2 linked regions of the Homo sapiens genome follow. The protein of the gene in region 2 purifies or fractionates together with the protein of the main gene of each other region. This does not show direct contact. Each region holds a gene or a part of one and is shown on either strand. Other genes may lie near its edges.

The links.
Region 1: the proteins of LTV1 (region 2) and TSR1 purify together in Homo sapiens (co-immunoprecipitation; 5 studies listed by BioGRID and IntAct, with this or other methods). This does not show direct contact.

The regions. Positions count from the first base shown.
Region 1 is NC_000017.11:2,323,012-2,335,316, forward strand, and holds part of TSR1 (pre-rRNA-processing protein TSR1 homolog), read right to left. Parts: coding exon 12,249-12,305; intron 11,886-12,248; coding exon 11,461-11,885; intron 10,706-11,460; coding exon 10,546-10,705; intron 10,114-10,545; coding exon 9,950-10,113; intron 9,349-9,949; coding exon 9,158-9,348; intron 8,099-9,157; coding exon 7,936-8,098; intron 7,615-7,935; coding exon 7,504-7,614; intron 7,360-7,503; exon of another isoform or gene 7,268-7,359; intron 6,465-7,267; coding exon 6,332-6,464; intron 6,200-6,331; exon of another isoform or gene 6,114-6,199; intron 2,410-6,113; coding exon 2,293-2,409; intron 2,254-2,292; exon of another isoform or gene 1,819-2,253; coding exon 1,678-1,818; exon of another isoform or gene 1,568-1,677; coding exon 1,493-1,567; exon of another isoform or gene 1,364-1,492; coding exon 1,185-1,363; 3' UTR 863-1,184; coding exon of another isoform or gene 644-862; 3' UTR 335-643; coding exon of another isoform or gene 125-334; 3' UTR 1-124. Other genes in the region: SRR (serine racemase), read left to right, coding at 125-334, 644-862. UniProt on the Homo sapiens protein: Required during maturation of the 40S ribosomal subunit in the nucleolus.
Region 2 is NC_000006.12:143,851,127-143,863,431, forward strand, and holds part of LTV1 (protein LTV1 homolog), read left to right. Parts: intron 1-6,176; coding exon 6,177-6,318; exon of another isoform or gene 6,319-6,455; coding exon of another isoform or gene 6,456-6,457; intron 6,458-6,625; coding exon 6,626-6,881; intron 6,882-9,299; coding exon 9,300-9,427; intron 9,428-10,977; coding exon 10,978-11,117; intron 11,118-11,717; coding exon 11,718-11,770; intron 11,771-11,959; coding exon 11,960-12,160; intron 12,161-12,290; coding exon 12,291-12,305. UniProt on the Homo sapiens protein: Essential for ribosome biogenesis.

The sequences.
Region 1 (12,305 bases), on a different chromosome or scaffold from region 2:
GCCTCGGGCTCCCAAAGTGTTGGGATTACAGGTGTGAGCCACCACACCAGGCCCATATTTTCTTTTAGACATGCAGGCAATGTTGTGGTTTGTTGTTAAGATGTCTTAATATTCCTCTTCCCAGGCTCTGAAACCTAGTGTGAAGGTATATGCTGCTGAACCCTCAAATGCAGATGACTGCTACCAGTCCAAGCTGAAGGGGAAACTGATGCCCAATCTTTATCCTCCAGAAACCATAGCAGATGGTGTCAAATCCAGCATTGGCTTGAACACCTGGCCTATTATCAGGGACCTTGTGGATGATATCTTCACTGTCACAGAGGATGAAATTAAGGTGAGGCTCCAGCAAGAAAAGAAATAGCAAAGCATGGTGTAACTTCTTAGGCAGAAGAAACTTCCCTTAGGAGTAGCAAGTGACCCACGGGAACCTGACTAGGTAACTTCATGACATGGGAGGGTACCCTAGATGTATTAATGACAACCCTCTTGACAGAAGCAGAGTCAGAATTAAAGAAAAGCTTTGGGAAGCGTGTGTACACAGTGATAAGAAAATTCAAACTGGACACGTATTCTCATCTGAACTTTATAGGTAAACCAACTAGACTCCCCTTTCACTAATTCCTACTCCCTTCCATATCAACAGTGTGCAACCCAGCTGGTGTGGGAGAGGATGAAACTACTCATTGAACCTACAGCTGGTGTTGGAGTGGCTGCTGTGCTGTCTCAACATTTTCAAACTGTTTCCCCAGAAGTAAAGAACATTTGTATTGTGCTCAGTGGTGGAAATGTAGACTTAACCTCCTCCATAACTTGGGTGAAGCAGGCTGAAAGGCCAGCTTCTTATCAGTCTGTTTCTGTTTAATTTACAGAAAAGGAAATGGTGGGAATTCAGTGTCTTTAGATACTGAAGACATTTTGTTTCCTAGTATTGTCAACTCTTAGTTATCAGATTCTTAATGGAGAGTGGCTATTTCATTAAGATTTAATAGTTTTTTTTGGACTAAGTAGTGGAAAAACTTTTATACTTAACTGAGACATTTTGTCAAGGCTAAAAAAAAGTCTTGCAAAATGGGGCAGTGGACTGACAGGCTGACATAGAAAATAAACTTTGCCCAATCACAACTTGTGCCTCCCATCCCTGGAGTACTGACTGGCACCGGTAAGACAGAATCTCTTTGAATCCATTACTCCATGCCCCCTTGAGGCACTGTTGAAGAAATCTCACTTTTCAGCCAGGGTACTGGTTCTGGTACATATGGATCATAAGTCCATTTGGGGAAGACTCGTTTATACAGGTTCATCAGTACTGTGTCTTGAGATTTTAGCTTCCCATCAAAGCTGCATTTCATGTGGCCATGGGTACCTAGAAAGACATCAGAACAAGTCGGTCAAATTAAAAGTAGAAAATTTTAAAGCAATGACTTCCAACCCAACAGTCATTTAGCAACACTGCAGAAATGCAGACATGGTCTCAAATCCCGTGTTTCCTTACCTAAAGGTTCCTTGATATGTCCTCTCCGGCCCCACTTCGTTCTCAGTTCCACTGGTTTAAACCACAGCACATCCTCTTAGAATCAAACACATTAAAGACCAAGATGAAACATTTACCCACAAAATGTAAACCCAACCTTTATACCACAAAGGCAATCAGATCCCATCCTCCTCCTTCATACCCACCTCTGTTGAAGAACATGTAACGTACTACTGCCATCTTAGTAAAAATTTTGAAAGGATGACCACTCAGAACAACTCTCTTGATGACCATTCTGTCTGGATCTACTGACATAAGATGGCCTGTAGCAATGAGGCTGTGCATTCCTAAAGGACAAAAGCAAAGAAGCTATTTAGGAATTTACAGGCCAAAGTCTTCATTTATTGCCCAGTCCATTTAAAGACCCATGCAAGAGCCTGGTTTGTCATCCCTGCCCTAGCCCAATCTGAGGCTAAGATTGGTAAACTGTAAGCCCACACTTAACCTTGTCAATAGGTTCTTGAAAACTTGTACTTCAAGAGAAATGATGTATAACAAAACCATACTTTTTCTCATCAGTTGTTACAAGGAAAGGATGTTGAACAAAAGGCAGTTATTTGAGGACTGGCTATACACTGTTTCACGTAAAAGTTGGAGTTTTCATTGTTCTATTAACAATGTTAAATGAAGACTTACTGTATTTTGAAAACCATCATTACCTTCTCCATACCATTTGGCTCCCAAATTTAAATAAACAAGAGAAAACGGTGTTCATCTATTAAGGACCTGCAGGGTCTGTTCATCTCTGTGGCTCAACTTACCATTGCTTTTTTGCTTGAAAAGCAGCACAGATGCAGGAGGAAAAGTGATTGGCGCATAGACTGTCGCCACCAGGGCCATGTCAGCAGTCAGGAATCTCTGCAATTTATGTTTGTCCGCTGCCATAAGGGTTAAAAAATGAAAAGCAAAACCATTTTGAGAAACCAGAGGTGATAGAGGCCTGTGAAAAGCTGTATTAGTGCAACTCTTAAACCTATGGCAGCTTCTACTTCTCTAAACCACCAGTTCTCAAAAATTTTCGCTGCCTCAATGCACCTAAAAGATACGATCTAGTCCTATCAGTAACTTTTTTTTTTTCTTTTTTTTTGAGTTTGAGTATCGTTCCTGTCACCCAGGCTGGAATGCAATGGTGTGATCTCAGCTGACTGCAACCTCTGCCTCCCGGGTTCAAGCAGTTCTCCTGCCTCAGCCTCCTGAGTAGCTGGGATTACAGGCACATGCCACCACGCCCGGCTAATTTTTGTATTTTTAGTAGAGACCGGGTTTCACCATGTTGGCCAGGCTGGTCTCGAACTCCTCACCTTGTGATCCACCCACCTCAATCTCCCAAAGTGCTGGGATTACAGGCGTGAGCCACCGCGCCAGGCTGTATCAGTAACTTTTTATTTATTTATTTATTTTGAGATGGTGTCTCGCTCTTGTTGCCCAGGCTGGAGTACAATGGTGCCATCTCTGCTCACTGCAACCTCCACCTCCCAGGTTCAAGTGATTCTTCTGCCTCAGGCTCCCGAATAGCTGGAATTGCAGGTGCCTGATCAGTAACTTTTTTATCTGGAGTCAGAATCTTGGAGCCTAGACTGTATTTGATGTTCTACCTTCAAGGTAGCCCTCACCTCCTTTTTAAAATACTAAACTTAAAGGAAAATAAAATATTTTAAGGCAAAGAAAAATTAATCTCACTTAGAGATTGTGATTCTCACAATTGGTGAGAATAAAAATTATCCAAAACACCATTAATACTGCTTTCTTCATATTCCTCCTGCCACTGCTGAGAGTGAGTGAACTAGGACGATGTTCAGAAGCCCCCAAGTTAGTGGGCAACATATCTTCCTGCTCCTACTGTGTAGGAGACAATCATTTCTGCTGCAAGTCCCGTCCAGTAGTCTCTCAGTATCTCAGGACCCCTACCTCTGCTTTACCCAACTATGAGCCATACCCAGCCTCCATTCCTTCACCCACACTGCCCTTGGCACACTAGACATCAAAGTTTCCACACTTTATCACACCCTTTTAAATTCTGAGAGACAGTGTCTCACTCTGCTATCTAGGCTAGACTGTATTTGGTGTTCTACCTTCAATGTAGCCCTCACCCCCCTTTTAAAAATACTAAACTTATAGGAAAATAAAATATTTTAAGGGCTGTGGTGTGAACACAGCTCACTGGAGCCTCAAACTCCTGGGCCCACTGGCTCAGGCAATCCCTCTTGCCTCAGCCTCCCAAGTAGCTGGGACTGCAAAGCACATGCCACCACACCTGGCTAATTAAAAAGAAAAATTTTTGGCCGGGCGCAGTGGCTCATGCCTGTAATCCCAGCACTTTGGGAGGCCAATGCGGGTGGATCACCTGAGGTCGGGAGTTTGAGACCAGCCTGGCCAAGATGGTGAAACTCTATCTCTACTAATAATAGAAAAATTAGCTAGGCATGGTGGTACACGCCTGTAATCCCAGCTGCTTGGGAGGCTGAGGCAGGAGAATCACTTGAACCTAGGAGGCAGAGGTTGCAGTGAGCCAAGATCCTGCCACTGCACTCCAGCCTGGGCAACAAGAGTGAAACTCCATCTCCCAAAAAAAAAAATTTTTTTTTCGTAGAGGCCGGGCATGTTGGCTCATCCCTATAAATCCCAGCACTTTGGGAGGCCAAGGCACGTGGATCACCTGAGGTCAAGAGTTTGAGAACAGACTGGCCAACTTGGTGAAACCCCATCTCTACTAAAAATACAAAAAGTAGCTGGGCGTGGTGGCAGACACCTATGGTCCGAGCTACTTGGGAGGCTGAGGCGCCAGAATCACTTGAACCTGGGACGGGGAGGCTGCAATGAGCTGAGATCATGTTACTGCACTCCAGCCTTGGTGACAGAGTTGGACTCTATATCAAAAAAAAAAAAAAAAAAATTGTAGAGACCGGAGTCTCACACTCCTGACCTCAAGCGATCCTCCTGCCTCAGTCTCTGCAACTGAGACTTTTATTTAGTTCCAGTTCTAAGGATCTGCCTTTACAAAATAAGCAAAGAAGTAAATAAAGTTTTATGCATACAGATCTAGTTTAGAGCAAAACATTAGAAATAGCCTAAGTGCTCACCCGTAGAAGCTCAAATAAGTATCAGTACATCACATACACTGGAATATATCCAAATGACAATAAAGCATTAAAAGTCTCATTAACTAATTAATCTTATGGAAAATTGATCAAAATCAATTAAGTGATAAATGCAATGTTTAACACCATATTTACAATTACAATCCAAATTGTGTAAAGAAAAAAAATGAGATCTGGATGAAAATGTATAAAATAAAAATGAATTTTCTCTAATATAAGGTAATTTTACTTTTACATTATTCCTTATTTTCCCAACTGTATAAAATATGAAAATAGTTCATCCTAAAAAAAAAAATCAAAACCATTTTGAAACAATAAAAGAATGACTGGCCAGGCGCAGTGGCTCACGCCTGTAATCCCAGCACTTTGGAAGGCCAAGGCAGGAGGATCGCCTAAGGTCGAGACCAGCCTGGCCAGCATGGTGAAACCCCGTCTCTACTAAAAATACAAAAATTAGCTAGGCGTGGTGGCGGGTGCCTGTAATCTCAGCTACTCGGGAAGCTGAGGCAGGAAAACTGATTGAACCTGGAAGGCAGAGGTTGCAGTGAGCCTGGATTGCACCATTGCACTCCAGTTGAGCATCAGAGTGAGACTCGGTCTCAAAAAAAAAAAAAAAAAAAAAGAGGCCAGGCACATTGGCTCATGTCTGTAATCCCAGCACTTTGGGAGACCGAGGTGGGCGGATCACCTGAGACCAGGAGTTCAAAACCAGCCTGAACTCCTGGTCTTGGTGAAACCCCATCTCTACTAAACCCCAACATGGTGAAACCCCATCTCTACTAAAAATACAAAAATTAGCTGGGCATGGTCGTGCATGCCTGTAGTCCCAACTACTCTACTCGGGAGGCTGAGGCAGGAGAATTGCTTGAACCCGGGAGGCGGAGGTTGCAGTGAGCCGAGATCACGCTATTGCACTCCAGCCTGGGCAACGGAGTAAGACTCCGTCTCCAAAAAAACAAACAAACAAACAAACAAAAAAAAACAAAAAAAACAAGAGGGGGCGCGGTGGCTCACACCTGTAATCCCAGCACTTTGGGAGGCTGAGGCGGGCGGCTCACGAGGTCAGGAGATAGAGACCATCCTGGCTAACACGGTGAAACCCCGTCTCTACTAAAAATACAAAAAATTAGCTGGGCATGGTGGCGGGCGCCTGTAGTCCCAGCTACTTGGGAGGCTGAGGCAGGAAAATGGTGTAAGTAAACCTGAGAGGCGGAGCTTGCAGTGAGCCTAGATCGCGCCACTGCACTCCAGCCTGGGCGACAGAGTGAGACTCCGTCTCAAAAAAAAAAAAAAAAAAAAAAAAAAAACAGAAACAAAAACAAGATTAAATCTTACCTTTTTTGGTCTTCAATTCCCCGTTCTAATGCCACAAGTGTTGGGATTACAGGTGTGAACCACTGCACCACTGCACCCACCCTAATACCCTTTTTATAAAGCTGCCAACTTCTATTCAAAACCTGCTATGGAACAAATACTCATGGCAAAAAAGCCTCAGTATCACACAGAAGTTGCATCACTGGGATGCTTCAGACAGGTTCAGACATTTTGAATAAAAACATCATTGGCTCTTAAGCCAGAGTACTGAAAATACCTCTAACCCAGAGATGTAAGATTTTGAAACCATATATTTTGGCACCCCTCCACCACAAGTCACTTTCCCAAAAGACAAGATGGACAAGAACCCAGCTTCCCCATTGCTAACCTGCAGTGTGCTGAGAGAATAAAGGTGAGGCTCGGAAGCGCCTGAATCCACAGTGAAATATGAGCTCTTCCTTGGCTTTCACAGGTTCAGTGTTGCCAGGGTCACGCCTCACCACCATATTCAATACTGACATCTGGGGACCAAGTAAGAAAAACAAAAATCTTCATAGTCTAGGAATACAATTGCCTAAACTGAAAGAAGGCAAACCAAACTAGCAGATTCAGACTCATTCTAAGAACTGACAATGCTAATTAATGGTGGAGTGTAGATGCTGAAACACGGGTTCATCCTTTACCTCCACCAATGACTGGCATTTAAGCCAAACACAGGCTGATCAGAGCTTTCATGCACCCTTCAATGCTAACCTACCTTCCTGCACCTAACAGAAAAGAGCTCAACATCTGCCACACAAAAATCAGTGGCCTTCAAGGCATTCACTCACCACAATCTCAAAACCACACTCATTCAAGCCCCTTCTTCTTGAGCCCTTACCAAAACCGATCAAAGAACTATCACATACCCCACAACATACACAACTACTGGCCACCAAGAGAAAAGAGATCTGCACTTTGGCATAAACTTTTTTTTTTTTTGACATAAGAGTTTCGCTCTTGTTGCCCAGGCTGGAGTGCAATGGTGCAATCTTGGCTCACCACAACCTCCGCCTACTGGGTTCAAGCAATTCTTCTGCCTCAGCCTCCCAAGTAGCTGGGATTACAGGCATGTGCCACCACGCCTGGCTAATTTTGTATTTTTGGTAGAGACAGGGTTCCTCCATGTTGGTCAGGCTGGTCTCGAACTCCCGACCTCAGGTGATCCACCCACCTTGGCCTCCCAAAAAGTGCTGGGATTACAGGCGTGAGCCGCCGCGCCCAGCCAAACCTTTATTTTTAAGGCTGCCAACCCTTATTCAAAATCTGGTCTGAAAAACATACTTGGAGAAGTCTCAGAACCACACAGAGATTGCATCACTGAGATGCTTCAGACAGGTTCAGACGATATGAATAAAACCATCATTGACTTCTCTATTATTCTCCAATTCCTAATCATAAAGGCAGACTTTTTGCATCCCAATGAGCAAAATTTTAGTCACACATAAACAGAATTTTAGACTGTCAGAAGCAGCTGGAAAGTTTCACAACCCCCCATTTTCCCACAAGACAGCAATTTACCTTCTGTTCATGAGGTAGTAAAGAAAATGCAATCAAGGGTGTTCCTTGCCTGAAGCACTCGACCACTGAGACGGGGACTTCAGAGACATGAAGTGTGACATACCAGCCAACCTGCCACAAGAAAGCAGAAAGCAATCATGGAGTTACCTTTCAAAGTCCCAATAGCGAGGAAGCTTTCTCCAAATATGTTGAGTCTCTCAGATAAAATTTTTAAAGCCAACCCTCATCCTTCAAGATGCTTCATTTACCCAGATCACACTTTTTCATTTAACATAGCTGATACCTCTTTGTTCCCAGTATCATTCTAATCAATGACTCAGGGGCTCCCCTAATCCCCAAATGCAGCATATTTTCATGCCAAGAGAAGGAATAAAGTAGGGAGCATGTTGACAAATGAAAGCAACATACAAGATGAACAAGGAGGATAGATACCTCAGCTCCTTCAACCTCTTTTTCTTCAACCTCTTTAAAGATGCTTTTCCTAGTGTTAGTAAAGTTCTGAAACTGAAATATTCGAGCATAATCTTGAGGAAGGTTTTCCTTAGGATCCCATGGAGATGTCCGGAAGCTCTTAAGGCCTCTGTATTTCTGAAATCTAGAATATTGAAGATTTTTAAAGACATTAAGTCAGATTTATATGGTGCTATATAGACTCAAGTCACTGCTAAAATGGCTAAGGAGCTAGCTGAAAAGAACTCCAATCATCCTCTCTCCAAACAACCCAACAGCTTAAACCAAGACGACACTCCGAACAGCTTATAACAAGTTCTATCGGAACCAAACCCAAGCTTCTCACTGACAAAAAAGATGCTTGGTAATGGCCTGATACAGTTCAGATGTGTCTCCCTGCCCCAATCTCATACTGAAATACAATCCCCAGTGTTGGAGGTGGAGCCTGGTGGGAGGTGACTGCATTAGGGGAGAGGTTTTCTCATGAGTGGGTTAGCACCACCCTCCTTGTTGAGTGAGTTCTCATGAGATCTAGTTGTTTAAAGTGTGTAGCACCTCCTGCCTTGCTCTCGTTACTGCGCTGGCCGTGTGACATGACTTGCTCCCCCTCCACCTTCTGCCATGATTGTAAGTTTCTTGAGGACACCCCCAGAAGCTGAGCAGATGCCAACACCATGCTTCCTGTACAGTCTGCAGGACCATGACCCAATTAAATCTCTTTTCTTTATAAATTATGCAGTCTCTGGTACTTCTTTATAGCCATGCGAGAATGGCCTAATACATAGCCTTACCTCCTAATATCCAAAATTAATTCACTGGCTTTAGTCACTCACCTCCAGAACAGATATAATCATCTACTTCTTCACTCTTCTACTTCTGCTATTCTACCCAAACCCCCTAAAATTTCCAAACATTATATACTTCAATTGAGTACTGGCTCCTTTGGGAAGAAGTATTTGCTAATTAACCTTAGTATTTCCCCTTCATTCAAGTCCTGTAACGTGAGTCTGCACCACAGTCTAGAACTTAATTACATATGACCATTTCCCGTATGTATGTCCTGCCTTCCCATATTAAATGTTAGCTCTTCAGGAGCAGAAAAAATGTGTTTTTCTTCTTTTGCATCACAGTGACACAGCTCTGAGCCAAGTTTTTAAAAACGTATTGACTGAATTTAGATTTGTTGATAGACTTGTTGACTAACCGAATTCGAGCAGCCACATCACGGGGCGTGTCCACTTCATCTGGAAACATCTCTTCCAGTCTTTCTTGTTTATATTTCTCCAACATTTTTGCCTCAGCTTCTTCATCTACTTTCTTATCATACAGATCATCATGCACAGACTCCCCAATAGTCATAGTTTCATATTCTTCCTCTTCTTCACTACTCTCATCCTGTAGAATAGGATTACAGTTTTTTCAGAAGAAATCCACACCTGTCTCTACCCCAAAGGCCAATAAGCTAAGAGTAAAATAATTGTACTAGATCCCTATTCCCAACCAACATAAATTCTAATACAGTCTAAAGTATAAAACAAAAGCCTCATTCCTGGCAACTACAGAGTCATTCCTAAGAAACTAACCATACACGGCCGGGTGCGGTGGCTCACGCCTGTAATCCCAGCACTTTGGGAGGCCAAGGCAGGCGGATCATGAGGTCAGGAGATTGAGACCATCCTGGCTAACACAGTGAAACCCCGTCTCTACTAAAAATACAAAAAAATTAGCCAGGCATGGTGGTGGGCGCCTGTAGTCCCAGCTACTCAGGAGGCTGAGGCAGGAGAATGGCGTGAACCCAGGAGGGAGAGCTTGCAGTGAGCCCAGATCGCACCACTGCACTCCAGCCTGAGCAACAGAGCAAGACTCCGTCTCATAAAAAAAAAATAAAAAAAATAAAAAAAAGAAACTAACCACACACACCCATCAAGATCACACCTGCACTTTGCCTTACATTTGGAGCTAGACACAGAATTGGCCTAAGGCCTCATTTCCTTACCTGAGATTCCTCCTCCATAAAATCCTCATGTTCCATATCATCATATTCATATTCATCTCCTTCCCCACCACTTTGGCTGCCACCATCCAAAATCCATTCAGCTTGGTAACTGGATGTTCCTTTGGGGACCTTCTTTACCACCTTAGAACTTTCCTTCAAGAAATCTGTAAAAGCCCAAACAAATTAAGTAAATTACAGACTTCTTTTCCCTATCCCTCTGGTTATTCTCACCTAGGCAAGGCACCAGATACTGCTGCCAACATGGGAAATTCTGGCAGACACTGTAAATAGAACTACTTCCAAATTTAATTCAGCTGCCTCACAACTAGCAATACTTACACAGCTAAATAAGCCCTGCAATGAATCCAAAGTTGTTTATCTGTTCATGATAAAACATTAACACAAGTAATTTTGAGAAATGGAACAAGACTGTGTATAATGTTTGTTTATTGAAAACATACAGCATTTGAGGGTGAGGAGAGACTTTCAACTATACCCCCACCCCACTCTATCCTATAGGGCCCTCACTTGGAACAGCTACAGAAAATCCACAATTCCAGGTCAGATGAATTACAGACAAGTTTACCAATACTGACCCTTTGCCTCGCTCAGCTCCTCCTCAGTGGGCCAGGTTTGCTCTCCCTCCATTGGATCTGGGATAACCTCTGCTTGCAAGGATTCCTGTCTACCAGGGTCTGCCTTCATTAGGACTTTAAGACCTTCTTCCATATCATCTACAGCATCCGTAGCACAAATCTGAAAACCAAAAGCAGGTGATAGTCAACCATGAACCAAAAATCTCCTAAATCTAACACAGTAACCAGAAAGACCCAGAAATATCAGTCCTCATGTATAAGATGAGTGCGACAGAATGCTAAAACTTGTCAAAACTTTTCCAATGGCTGTTTTCTAATTTCCAGGGTATTTTAAGTCTCTGCTTGGCTCTTGAGGTCTTTCTTAATCTGCTCCCACTCCTATCCATTTATTACGTACCTCACTCCCATCAAGCTGATTTCTTCAAGGTTCACATAAACCCTTTGATCCACCACTGTGCCTAGGTTCATTCTGTCTCTTATCTTCTAGGATATTCTTTTATCCCTCTTCAACTCATAAATCACATTTATCCTTCTCAACACCTAGCTCAAGTCTGATCTCTTATGTGAAGCTTGCTAGTCTACTTTCTCAACTTCCACTGCTGGTCCGCACTCTAACCATATGCTATCTCAATCTTTATTTCACACATGCCATTTTGTTCCAGCCCAATTAAGTCCCTTGAGGAAAGCAACCACATCTTGAGTGTGTTCTATAAACTCAGAGCCAATCACAGTGCAGACTACCTAGAAAGTGCTGGATAAATATGTGATTTATCAACCTATTTATAACTGACTATTGCCTTACTTCAGACTAGCAGTCTCCTCATTCACCTAAGTGTACAGACTATCTTCTCTGAATTTAAGTTTCCTTCCTGTGCCAACTTTCATATGAACATGAATTAAGAATATCAGTCTTACCTCCATTGCCATGTCTGGGTCCTTTTGGGGTTTAATTCCTCTAGGATTTAAAGGGAAAGGGTCTCCGGGGGCATCTATCTGTTTCATCTGGAAATCACCATATCCAACGATATGCAGCAACCTATTGACATTCAGAGTCTGCCCTCGAACATAGCCTGAAATTTTCAAGGTGCCCACCAAGTTATTCTCTTCACTAGGAACAAAATCAACAGCATGGGCAAATAGGTAGGCCCGCCGATCTCGAAAAGCAAGATGCTGTTGCTTCTGGTTAGCCAACTGCCTAAGCAGCATCCCTGCCTCCTGTTGAGTGTCTAACAAGAGGAGTTTGTCATGCGGAAAGCGCTTCTCCACTGCTTTACTTAGCTTCTTCCTGGTATCTATTTGTTTCTTCAGTGGGAGGCCAGAAATCCCCTGGACAGCTAGTGCTGTAAGCGAAAGAGAAAACGCTTCATGACCTACTGCTTCATTACATAAAAATCCCTCTGCAGTTCACAAACAACCTAATAGCTCAGTTGCAAGCCCAGAGATCACTGGGAAGCCCAACACTGAACTACCCTGAAGGAATTTCACAGTGAAATCAAACTTCATATCCTTGTTTCTCTGGGCAAAGGACAGCCAAAAACAAAAAGACACCCTGAGTGATAATCTGTAAACAATGGATCAAGTTTAATCCATATGTGTACATCCCACCACCAGCTGAATATGATCCATCAGTTGTATTCCTGTATCAAATACCAGGCATAGTGCCTGACAAATTAAAGGTGCACAATAAATGCTAACTCACTTACTATAGGTCGGAAGGCCCTGAGCAAAGAGGCAGGAAAGACAGTAATCACCGGTGCTGT
Region 2 (12,305 bases):
AGAAGGAAGGGTATGGATTAAAAAGAAATGAGGCTGGAGGGTTAAGTAATGGCCATGTAGCAGAGGGTGTTGGAGGCCATGTCAGATGATAAATTTGGAGTTGAAAGTTTTTCATGAACTTGAGTTTTTTGTTTTCATTTTCTGCTCCTTGTGGAGCAGGGCTAAGTCCTAAGCAGTGTGCCCAGAGTCAGCCTAGTATATTTATAGATGGAAGAACATATCTGAAGAAACAGGTAGGTATTTATTAAAATCGCAAAGTCAGAAAATACTGAAAGTATAACAGTCTAAAAATTGTTCGAGTTATTTTTAACAGGTGAATTTAAAGGCCAGTTTCTTCTTGCAGACAAAAGCTTTGAATTATGCTAGACAAAGTTAAACATTATAGATGTTTAATGGAACATTATTTTCACCAGTGGATATTAAAAGGAGAAGCATCATTTCTTTTTTCATTTTTTTTTTTAAATTATACTTTAAGTCCTGGGATATATATGCAGAATGTGCAGGTTTGTTATGTAGGTATACACGTCATGGTGGTTTGCTGCACCCATCAACCCATCATCTACATTAGGCATTTCTCCTAATGCTATCCCTCCCCTAGGCCCCCATCCCCCAACAGGCCCCAGTGTGTGATGTTCCCCTCCCTGTGTCCATATGTTCTCATTGTTCAACTCCCACTTATGAGTGAGAACATGCGGTGTTTGGTTTTCTGTTCCTGTGTTAGTTTGCTGAGAGTGATGGTTTCCAGCTTCATCCATGTCCCTGCAGAGGACATGAACGTGTCCTTTTTTATGGCTGCATAGTATTCCATGGTGTATATGTGCCACATTTTCTTTATCCAGTCTGTCATTGATGGGCATTTAAGTTGGTTCCAAGTCTTTGCTATTGTGAACAGTGCTACAATAAACCTACGTGTGCATGTGTCTTTATAGTAGAATGATTTATTATCCTTTGGGTATGTACCCAGTAATGGGATTGCTGGGTCAAATGGTATTTCTGGTTCTAGATCCTTGAGGAATCGCCACACTGTCTTCCACAATGGTTGAACTAATTTACACTCCCAACAACAACATAAAAGCGTTCCTATTTCTCCACATCCTCTCCAGAATCTGTTGTTTCCTGACTTTTTAATGATTGCCATTCTAACTGGCGTGAGATAGTTTCTCATTGTGGTTTTAATTTGCATTTCTATAATGACCAGTGATGATGAGCTTTTTTTCATGTTTGTTGGCTGCATAAATGTCTTCATTTGAGAAATATCTGTTCCTATCTTTTGCCCACTTTTCAATGGGGTTGTTTGTTTTTTTCTTGTAAATTTAAGTTCTTTGTAGATTCTGGATATTAGCCCTTTGTCAGATGGATTGATTGCAAAAATTTTCTCCCATTGTGTGGGTTGCCTGTTGACTCTGATGATAGTTTCTTTTGCTCTGCAGAAGCTCTTTAATTTAATTAGATCCCATTTGTCAATTTTGGCTTTTGTTGACATTGCTTTTGATGTTTTAGTCAAGAAGTCTTTGCCCATGCCTATATCCTGAATGGTATTGCTTAGGTTTTCTTCTAGAGTTTTTATGGTTTTAGGTCTTACGTTGAAGTCTTTAATCCATCTTGAGTTAATTTTTGTATAAGGTGTAAAGAAGGGGTCCAATTTCAGTTTTCTGCATATGGCTAGCCAGTTTTCCCAATGCCATTTATTAAATACGGAATCCTTTCCCCATTGCTTGTTTTTGTTAGGATTGTCAAAGATCAGATGGCTGTAGATGTGTGGTGTTATTTCTGAGGCCTCTGTTTTGTTCCATTGGTCTATATATCTGTTTTGGTACCAGTACCATGCTGTTTTGATTACTGTAGCCATGTAGTATAGTTTGAAGTCAGGTAGTGTGATGCCTCCAGCTTTGTTCTTTCTGCTTAGGATTATCTTGTAAATTACTTTGGGCAGTATGGCCATTTTTATGATATTGATTCTTCCTATCCATGAGCATGGAATGTTTTTCCATTTGTTTGTGTCCCCTCTGATTTCTTTGAGCAGTGGTTTGTAGTTCTCCTTGAAGAGGTCCTTCACATCCCTTGTAAGTTGGATTCCTAGGTATTTTATTCTCTTTGTAGCAATTGTGAATGGGAGTTCCCTCACAATTTGGCTCTCTGTTTGTCTATTATTGGTATATAGGAATGCTTGTGATTTTTGCACATTGATTTTGTATCCTGAGACTTTGCTGAAGTTGCTTATCAGCTTAAGGAGATTTTGGGCTGAGATGATGGGGTTTTCTAAATAGACAGTGATGTTAATCTGCAAACAGAGACAATTTGACTTCCTCTCTTCCTATTGGAATACGCTTTATTTCTTTCTCTTGCCTGATTGCCCTGGCCAGAACTTCCAATACTGTGTTGAATAGGATTGGTGAGAGAGGGCATCCTTGTCTTGTGCCGGTTTTCAAAGGGAATGCTTCCAGCTTTTGCCCATTCAGTATGATATTGGCTGAGGGTTTGTCATAAATAGCTCTTATTATTTTGAGATATGTTCCATCAATACCTAGTTTATTGAGAGTTTTTAGCATGAAGGGGTGTTGAATTTTATCAAAGGCCTTTTCTGCATCTATTGAGATAATCATGTGGTTTTTGTCATTGGTTCTGTTTATGTAATGGATTACGTTGAACCAGCCTTGCATCCCAGGGATGAAGCCAACTTGATTGTGGTGAATAAGCTTTTTGATGTGCTGCTGGATTTGTTTTGCCAGTTTTTTATTGACGATTTTCGCATTGATGTTCATCAGGGATATTGGCCTGAAATTTTCTTTTTTTGTTGTGTCTCTGCCAGGTTTTGGTATCAGGATGATGCTGGCCTCATAAAATGAGTTAGAGAGGAGTCCCTCTTTTTCTATTGTTTGGAATAGTTTCAGAAGGAGTGGTATCAGCTCCTCTCTGTACCTCTGGTAGAATTTGGCTGTGAATCTGTCTGGTCCTGGGCTTCTCTTTTGGTTGGTAGGCTATTGCTGCCTCTATTTCAGAACATGTTATTGGTCTATTCAGGGATTCCACTTCCTCCTGATTTAGCCTTGGGAGGGTGTATGTGTCCAGGAATTTATCCATTTCTTCTAGATTTTCTAGTTTATTTTCATAGAGGTGTTTATAGTATTCTCTGATGGTAATTTGTATTTCTGTGGGATCGGTGGTGATATCCCCTTTATCAATTTTTATTGTGTCTATTTGATTCTTCTCTCTTTTCTTCTTTATTAGTCTGGCTAGCAGTCTATCTATTTTGTTAATCTTTTCAAAAAACTAGCTCCTGGATTCATTGGTTTTTTTGAAGGGTTTTCGTGTCTCTATCTCCTTCAGTTCTGCTGTGTTTTAGTTATGTCTTGTCTTCTAGGTTTTGAATTTGTTTGCTCTTGTTTCTCTACTTCTTTTAATTGTGATGTTAGGGTGTCGATTTTAGATCTTTCCTGCTTTCTCCTGTGGGAATTTAGTGCTATAAATTTCCCCTTAAACACTGCTTTAGCTGTGTCCCAGAGATTCTGGTATGTTGTGTCTTTTTTCTCATTGGTTTCGAAGAACTTATTTATTTCTACCTTATTTTTGTTATTTACCCCGTAGGCATTCAGGAGCAGGTTGTTCAGTTTCCAAGTAGTTGTGCATTTTTGAGTGGATTTCTTAAACCTGAGTTCTAATTTGATTGCAGTGTGGTCTGAGAGACTGTTTGTTATGATTGCCATTCTTTTGCATTTGCTGAGGAGTGTTTTACTTCCAATTATGTGGTCAATTTTAGGATAAGTGCAATGTGGTGCTGAGAAGAATGTATATTCTGTTGATTTGGGGTGGAGAGTTACGTCACTGTCTATTAGGTCTGCTTGGTCCAGGGCTGAGTTCAAGTCCTGAAGATCCTTGTGAATTTTCTGTCTCGTTGATCTGTCTAATATTGACAGTGGGGTGTTAAAGTCTCCCATTATTATTGTGTGGGAGTCTAAGTCTCTTTGTAGGTCTCTTAGAACTTGCTTTATGAATCTGGGTGCTCCTGTATTAGGTGCATATATATTTAGGGTAGTTAGCTCTTCTTGTTGCATTGTTCCCTTTACTATTATGTAATGCCCTTCTTTGTGTTTTTTGATCTTTGTTGGTTTAGAGTCTGTTTTATCAGAGACTAGGATTGCAACACTTGCTGTTTTTGCTTTCCATTTGCTTGGTAAATATCCTCCATTCCTTTATTTTGAGTCTGTGTGCGTCTTTGCACATGAGATAGGTCTCCTGAATACAGCACACTGATGGGTCTTGACTCTTTATCCAATTTGCCAATCTGTGTCTTTTAATTGGGGCTTTTATCCCATTTACATTTAAGGTTAATATTGTAATGTGTTATTTGATTCTGTCATTATGATGCTAGCTGGTTATTTTGCCCATTAGTTTATGCAGTTTCTTCTTAGTATCGATGGTCTTTACTGTTTGGTACGTTTTGCAGTGGCTGGTACCAGTTTTTCCTTTCCATATTTAGTGCTTCCTTCAGGAGCTCTTGTAAGGCAGGCCTGGTGGTGACAAAATCTCTCAGCATTTGCTTATCTGGAAAGGATTTTATTTCTCCTTCACTTACAAAACTTAATTTGGCTGGATATGAGATTCTAAGTTGAAAATTCTTTACTTTAAGGATGTTGAGTATTGGCCCCCACTTTCTTCTGACTTGTACGGTTTCTGCTGAGAGATCCACTGTTAGTCTGATGGGCTTCTCTTTGTGGGTAACCCGACCTTTCTCTCTGGCTGCCCTTAACATTTTTTTCTTCATTTCAACCTTCGTGAATCTGACGATTATGTGTCTTGGGGTTGCTCTTCTCGAGGAGTATCTTTGTGGTTCCTGAATTTGAATGTTGGCCTCTCTTGCTAGGTTGGGTAAGTTCTCCTGGATAATATCCTGAAGAGTGTTTTTCAACTTGGTTCCATTCTCCCTATCACTTTCAGGTACACCAATCAAACATAGAGATTTGGTCTTTTCACATAGTCCCATATTTGTTGGAGGCTTTGTTCGTTCCTTTTCATTCTTTTTTCTCTAATCTTGTCTTCACGCTTTATTTCATTAAGTTGATCTTCAATCGCTGATGTCCTTTCTTCCACTTGATCAATTCGGCTATTGATACTTGTGTATGCTTCACAAAGTTCCCTTGCTGTGTTTTTCAGCTCCATCAGGTCATTTATGTTCTTCTCTAAACTGGTAATTCTAGTTAGCAATTCCTCTAACCTTTTTTCAAGGTTTTTAGCTTCCTTGCGTTGGGTTAGAACATGCTCCTTTAGCTCCAAGGAGTTTGTTACTACCCACCTTCTGAAGCATACTTCTGTCAATTCATCAAACGCATTCTCCGTCCAGTTTTGTTCCCTTGCCGGCGAGGAGTTGTGATCCTTTGAAGAGAAGAGGCATTCTGGTTTTTGGAAATTTCAGCCTTTTTGTGCTGGTTTTTCCTCATCTTCTTGGATTTATCTACCTTTGGTCATTGTTGTTGGTGACCTTTGGATGGGGTTTCTGTGTGGACGTCCTATTTGTTGATGTTGATGCTATTCCTTTCTGTTAGGTTTATTTCTAACAGTCAGACCCCTCTGCTGTAGGTCTGCTGGAGTTTGCTGGAGGTCCAGTCCAGTCCCTGTTTGCCTGGGTATCACCAGCAGAGGCTGCAGAACAGCAAAGATTGCTGCTTGTTCCTTCCTCTGGAAGCTTTGTCCCAGAGGGGTACCCGCCAGATGCCAACCAGAGCTCTCCTCTATGAGGTGTCTATTGACCCCTGATGGGAGGTGTCTCCTAGGCAGGAGGCACAGGGGTCAGGGACCCACTTGAGGAGGCAGTCTGTCCCTTAGCAGAGCTTGAGCACTGTGCCGGGAGATCCGCTGCTCTCTTCAGAGCCGGCAGGCAGGAACGTTTGAGTCTGCTGAAGCTGTGCCCACAGCCGCCCCTTCCCCCAGGTGCTCTGTCCCAGGAAGATGGGAGTTTTATTTATAAGGTCCTGACTGGGGCTGAGGCAGCATTTTGTTTCCTTTTTTTGTCTTGGAGTGTTCATTCTTTATTCTTCACTAGACTGAACTTAGTTCTTAATCGTTCTTTTATCCTCAATATATTAATAGACTCTTGCTATCATAGGTCCTTATATTGTGAGTTAAGTGAATGAATTGTTGCTATCTTGGGAATTACTGCTTAATTTTTGTTTTCCTTCTAGGACCTCGACTGGATTTTGATCCTGACATTGTTGCAGCTCTTGATGATGATTTTGACTTTGATGATCCAGATAATCTGCTTGAGGATGACTTTATTCTTCAGGCCAATAAGGCAACAGGAGAGGAAGAGGGAATGGATATACAGTATGTGTGGTTTGTTTCAAAGCAGAGATGATGACCTAAGTGTTACTGCTTCAGTGGGATGGTAACCATAGAACGTTACAGTTGGAAGAGACCTTCAAGAGCATTTAATCTGAGACTTCTGTATTTTAGAGCAGAAAATGTGAGATTCATTGCTTTTCCTACCAAACCAGATTGATCAAACACCCTCACTCTTCCTGCCTAGACAAGAACCCTTCCTGAAATACCTTCCAATTTTACTTGTGTAAAGTGGTTTTGTTCTGTTACTTTTTAAGTTGTTTTGGTAGGTAATTTATGACCTTTACTTTAGGAAATCTGAGAATGAAGATGACAGCGAGTGGGAAGATGTGGATGATGAGAAGGGAGATAGCAATGATGACTATGACTCTGCAGGCCTATTGTCAGATGAAGACTGTATGTCTGTGCCCGGAAAAACTCACAGAGCTATAGCAGATCACTTGTTCTGGAGTGAGGAAACAAAGAGTCGCTTCACGGAGTATTCGATGACTTCCTCAGTCATGAGGAGAAATGAACAGCTGACCCTACATGATGAGAGGTTTGAGAAGGTAAGGTCCCCACATAAGGGATGCTTTAGTACTATCTTATGTTAAATTTTTTTTTTTAATACCTGTCAGCTTTAGCCCAGGTTGAAGTGCTCACCAACCACAAAGTCAATCATAGGAAGTTTACAACTATCCAGCTATAGGTTCGTGTAGCCAGCATAAAGCAGAAGGGTATCAGTGCAGTACAGGAGCACAAAGACTGCAAAGGGAGCATAGAACTGTGCAGAAGAAGAGTAATTGGTTAGGAGGATGTGACTTTTCCAATTTACATCACACGCTTACACCAGGAGGTGGCTCAAATGATGCCTCATTCAACCTGAATGGGTAACCAAAAGTAGCTGTAATAGTTTTATTCTCACTAACTGTGGTAGGACAACTCACTTGAGTTTCTATTTGGCCCTTAAAACCCCCAGAAGTGGCCCTTAAACCCTCACCATCTCTAATGTTGTGCTTCTTTATTATGTATGTCATATATGGATTTGTCTCAGATTAGAATGTGAATCCCCCAAGGGCAGAGAGTTTTTTATATTTTGCTCACGATACATCTGAAAGCCTAAAATGGTGTCTTGGCATGTAGTAGAAGTTTAAAGTGTTCCATAAATGATAAATGAATGAAGGAATAGTTTCCTTCAAGGTGACTCTAAAGATAGAAGCAGTCCACTCAAGGACCTTGACGAAGCCGAGCGGGTTGAGGTTGATCTGGAAACTGGAACATCCTCTGGCCAAGTCAGCTGATCCGCCCGCGAGCTAAGTAGATGTTAGGCGCCTTGCTGTGTGCCTTGTTTTTTTTTGTTATTTTTCTTTTTTTATTTTTTAAAAAGAGAGATTGGGACCCAAAGCTAAAACTTTTGAGTGTTGAAAACAGCGTATCTCTTTATTAAAACAGAGCATAAAAGCACCTTAGTTATTGTCGTTTTCCCTTTACATATTCTATGAGGCCAGTCACCCTAGTTTTGATTCTGGAAAGAACGTGTGTAGGTCAAAAGGAGTTGGCTGATCAAACGTTCTTATTTTCCCCCTTGAATTCTGACATCCTGATTCTGAATTTCTCCAACAGTAATCCATAAGATGCTATATTTCTGAAGTATTGGCCTGATTGAGCACATCAAAATTCCATTTCTTTCCGTTTCTCATCTGGTGTTTTCAGACATAACTAACACTGAGGAATAGAATGGAAGTAGAGTATAAGACACTTTTGAAAGCTTGTATTTTCATATACTCTATTTGGTTCTGTTGTAACAGATTAGCTCCAGGGTTTATAATCCCAACCTATAGACTGTTTATACAGGTTTTTAATCCCACCTATCCTGTTGTTTGTTCTGTAGCACATAACACCTCCTAACATCATCTCTAATGTTGTGCTTTATTATGTATGTTATATATAGATTTGTCTCAGATTAGAATGTGAATTCCCCAAGGGCAGAGAGTTCTTTGTATTTTGCTCACGGATACATCCAAAAGCCTAAAATGGTGTCTTGGCATGTAATAGAAGTTTAAAGTGTTCCATAAATGATAAATGAATGAAGGAATAGTTGCCATCCAGGTGAATCTAAAATAAAGGCTGTTACCTTGCTACCTTCTCACCTAATACTATTTTCCCTCTTCTCTTGAGGGAGAAACAAACTGTTGCTACAAATCTCACTCTTCAGGAGATATATCCCCCCCATTTACTCTTTGTCAAAGCTTAACAGTGTCAACACCATTTGCATAATATAGTAATTATTGTCTAAACAAGAACAAATATATACATTAGTAGGTGAATTTTCAGTTGCACAATCTTTTAGTTTGCATAACTAAGGAATATGAAAATATCTTTAGTCTAGGCGTAGTGTCTCGTGCCTATAATCTCAGAACTGTGGGAGGCCGAAGCAGATGGATCACTTGAGCCTAGGAGTTTGAGACTGTCTTGGGCAGTGCAGACCCTGTTTCTATTTAAAAAAATAAATAAAATGGCCTGGTATGGTGGCATGTGCCTGTGGTCCCAGCTGCTTGAGAGGCTGAGGTGGGAAGATTGCTTGAGCCTGAGAGTTTGAGGCTGCAGTGAACTATGATCACGCCACTGTACTCCAGGCTGGGAGACAGTGAGATACTTAAAAAAAAGAAAAAGTATCTTCAAAAATGTTCTGACGTAATCTGTGCTGCCTAGCATTTTGTTCTCCAAGCTGAGTGGAATAATGCCTTTCATTTACATGTTAAATGGAAGCCTATTTTTAGGCTAAATGTAAGTCTTAAAGTACTGAGCAGAAATATCTTCCACATCCTATTGTTGCATTAAATCCCTACTGATATTTTAATGGTAATTGTGATAGTACCTGAATAACTATTGTGTAAGAATAAAGTTAATGTAAAAAAATTTTTAAGTGTGTAGTCTTACTGAGTACATTTGCTTTTCATGGTATCTTTTCTCTGTTTATATTCAAGTTTTATGAGCAATATGATGATGATGAAATTGGAGCTCTGGATAATGCAGAATTGGAAGGTTCTATTCAAGTGGACAGCAATCGCTTACAGGAAGTTTTGAATGACTACTATAAAGAGAAGGCAGAGAAGTATAGTGACTTTTCCTTCCTTGTTTAGCTGTTCTTTTTTTTAAAAAAGAAAAAATTCCAAAGAAAGGTCTATAGTATAACTGAATTGAGGAAAAAATTAACCTAGTCAAAATACATATTGAGAAAATGAAAAAGGAAAAAAGAAAAGGGGAAAAAAAAAGATAGGGCGGAAAAAAGAAAGTGGTACATTTTCCATAAACTTGGGTCATGTATAGCTCATTGTTTTGCCTACATTTTGGTGTTAAATGTTCTGAAGTAGAACGTAATGGGAATATACGAGGAGCCACTTTCTCCGTATCTTTGACTGGAGAAGAGTCATGGTAGAATGTGTATTCGTTTATTAAATTTTTTTTTTTTTTTGAGACGGAGTCTTGCTCTGTTGCCCAGGCTGGAATGCAGTGGTGCGATCTCAGCTCACCTGCAACCTCCGCCTCCCAGGTTCAGGTGATTCTCCTGCCTCAGCCTCCTGAGCAGATGTGATTACAGGTGCACACCACCATGCCCAGCTAATTTTTGTATTTTTAGTAGAGATGGGGTTCCACCATGTTGGCCAGGCTGGTCTCAAACTCTTGACCTCATGTAATATGCCTGCCTCGGTCTCCCAAAGTGCTGGGATTATAGGTCTGAGCCACTGTGCCTGGCCAATTTTTAATTTTTTTTTAACTTTTATTTATTTTGCTTAAAAGTTTTGTTTTGATAGAAGCATGAATATTATTAGGGTGTGAAATATAAGGACAGGCTGGGCGTGGTGGTGTACACCTGTAATCCCAGCTGTTTGGGAGGCTGAGACAGGATCACTTGAACCTGGAAGGCAGAGGTTGCAGTGAGCTGAGATAGCACCACTGCTTCCAGCCTGGGTGACAGGGCGAGACTCTGTCTCAAAAAAAAAAAAAGAAATAAAGGGACACATTCCCCTTGGAAAATAAGATCGTGTTTCTAGTCTTTTGGGCTGAAGAATTATTCCAAGCATACGCTTTTTTCATCTTTCTGAAATGCCAGGTGTTCTGAGAAGTAGGTATTTACATCTCGTGGAAAGACAAGAATTTGTCTCTCCAGCTGGATTAGCGGAACTGACCAGCCAGTTATTTTGGCAAATCAGCATCCACATCAAGGTGACTCTTCTCTGAGAGAAACTGATGAAGTGTTCAAATCAGCTAGAAAGGTCTGATGTTCCATGATCACTATAATATATAGATCCCATAGCAGAAAAAGAAGCTATATAGTTGAGTGAAATATTCGAATACTTTGCAGAGACAGATGAGTTATGCTTTTTTAGGCTTTAAAAACCTGTTTTCTTAGGAAGCTGCCTTGGAAAGACACAGCTAGATGTTACCTTCCTATCAGCCGAGTGAATGTCCAAAACTCACTGGAGGGAAGAGGCAGGGCTGGGTAGAACAGAGTTTGACAGAAAATAACGGATGGGTCACTGGAATATGTGCATTTAAAACATTGGTTTTTCCACAGCTAAAAATTGCAGTTTTAGTGACATAGTATAATAATAGGTCATTTTTCCCCCTCTTGGTCTTCACTTTTAAAAACTCGTCTAAAAGTTGTGTAAAATTGAATACCCTTGAACCCTTGGAGGATCAAGACCTGCCAATGAATGAGCTTGATGAGTCTGAGGAGGAAGAAATGATTACTGTAGTCCTTGAAGAAGCCAAAGAGAAGTGGGATTGTGAATCTATTTGTAGTAAGTATATTCACTTTATGATAGTAATTTTAAAGTATTAAAGTATATCAACTTTAGGCTGGGTGCGGTGCCTCACGCCTGTAGTAATCCCAGCACTTTGGGAGGCCGAGGCGGGTGGGTCACCTGATGTCAGGAGTTCAAGACCAGCCTGGCCAACATGGTGAAACCCCGTGTCTACTAAAAAATACAAAAATTAGCCAGGTATGGTGGCAGGCAACTGTAATCCCAGCTGCTCGAGAGGCTGAGGCAGGAGAATAGCTTGAACCTGGGAGGCAGAGGTTGCAATGAGCCGAGATCATGCCATTGCACTCCAACCTGGGCAACAAGAGCAAAACTCTGTCTAAAAAAAAACATATATCAACTTTGAAAAAATACATATATTTTAATAAGAGTTAGGCTTTTAGGAAATTTGTGAAAAATTATTTGGAAAGAGTAATATTCCAATACTGAGTTGTAAGCAATTTATAAAACATTGATCAGAGACTCCAGTGTTATTTTGCACTATGAAAACACAAGGTCAGAAATATAGTAGGAATTCAGTAATGCTTTGTGGAACTGAAAACATGCTTACTGATACATGACTTTTATTTGTTTGTTTAGGTACATACTCAAATTTATATAACCATCCACAGCTTATCAAGTATCAACCAAAGGTAAGTCCTAGTGTGCTGAGCTATTTGAAGGATGCAGTGCATAAAAAATAGAGTGCACATTTTCGCACAATAACTTTTTATCTTTATGGCTAGAGTGATATTAGAAAAAGCATCAACAGTATGTCATTAATGAGCTATTTTTTAATAGGAATGAGAAGTAACTCTAGTACCATTTTATCTGTATTTCAGCCCAAACAAATTCGAATATCTTCTAAAACAGGAATACCTCTCAATGTCTTACCAAAGAAAGGACTCACAGCAAAGCAAACTGAAAGAATACAGATGATTAATGGCAGTGATCTTCCTAAAGTATCAACTCAGCCACGTTCTAAAAATGAAAGCAAAGAAGATAAAAGAGCAAGAAAGCAAGCTATAAAAGAAGAGCGCAAGGTAAAATATATTTTTCAAATGTGAGATTTACAAAGAGCTGGTGGAGGGGAAATTAGGGGAATTTTGTAAAAGCAGTCTGTATCAGTTTAAAGATGTGAATAATACAAGTATATTCTTGTACTTATAACAGGAACGAAGAGTGGAG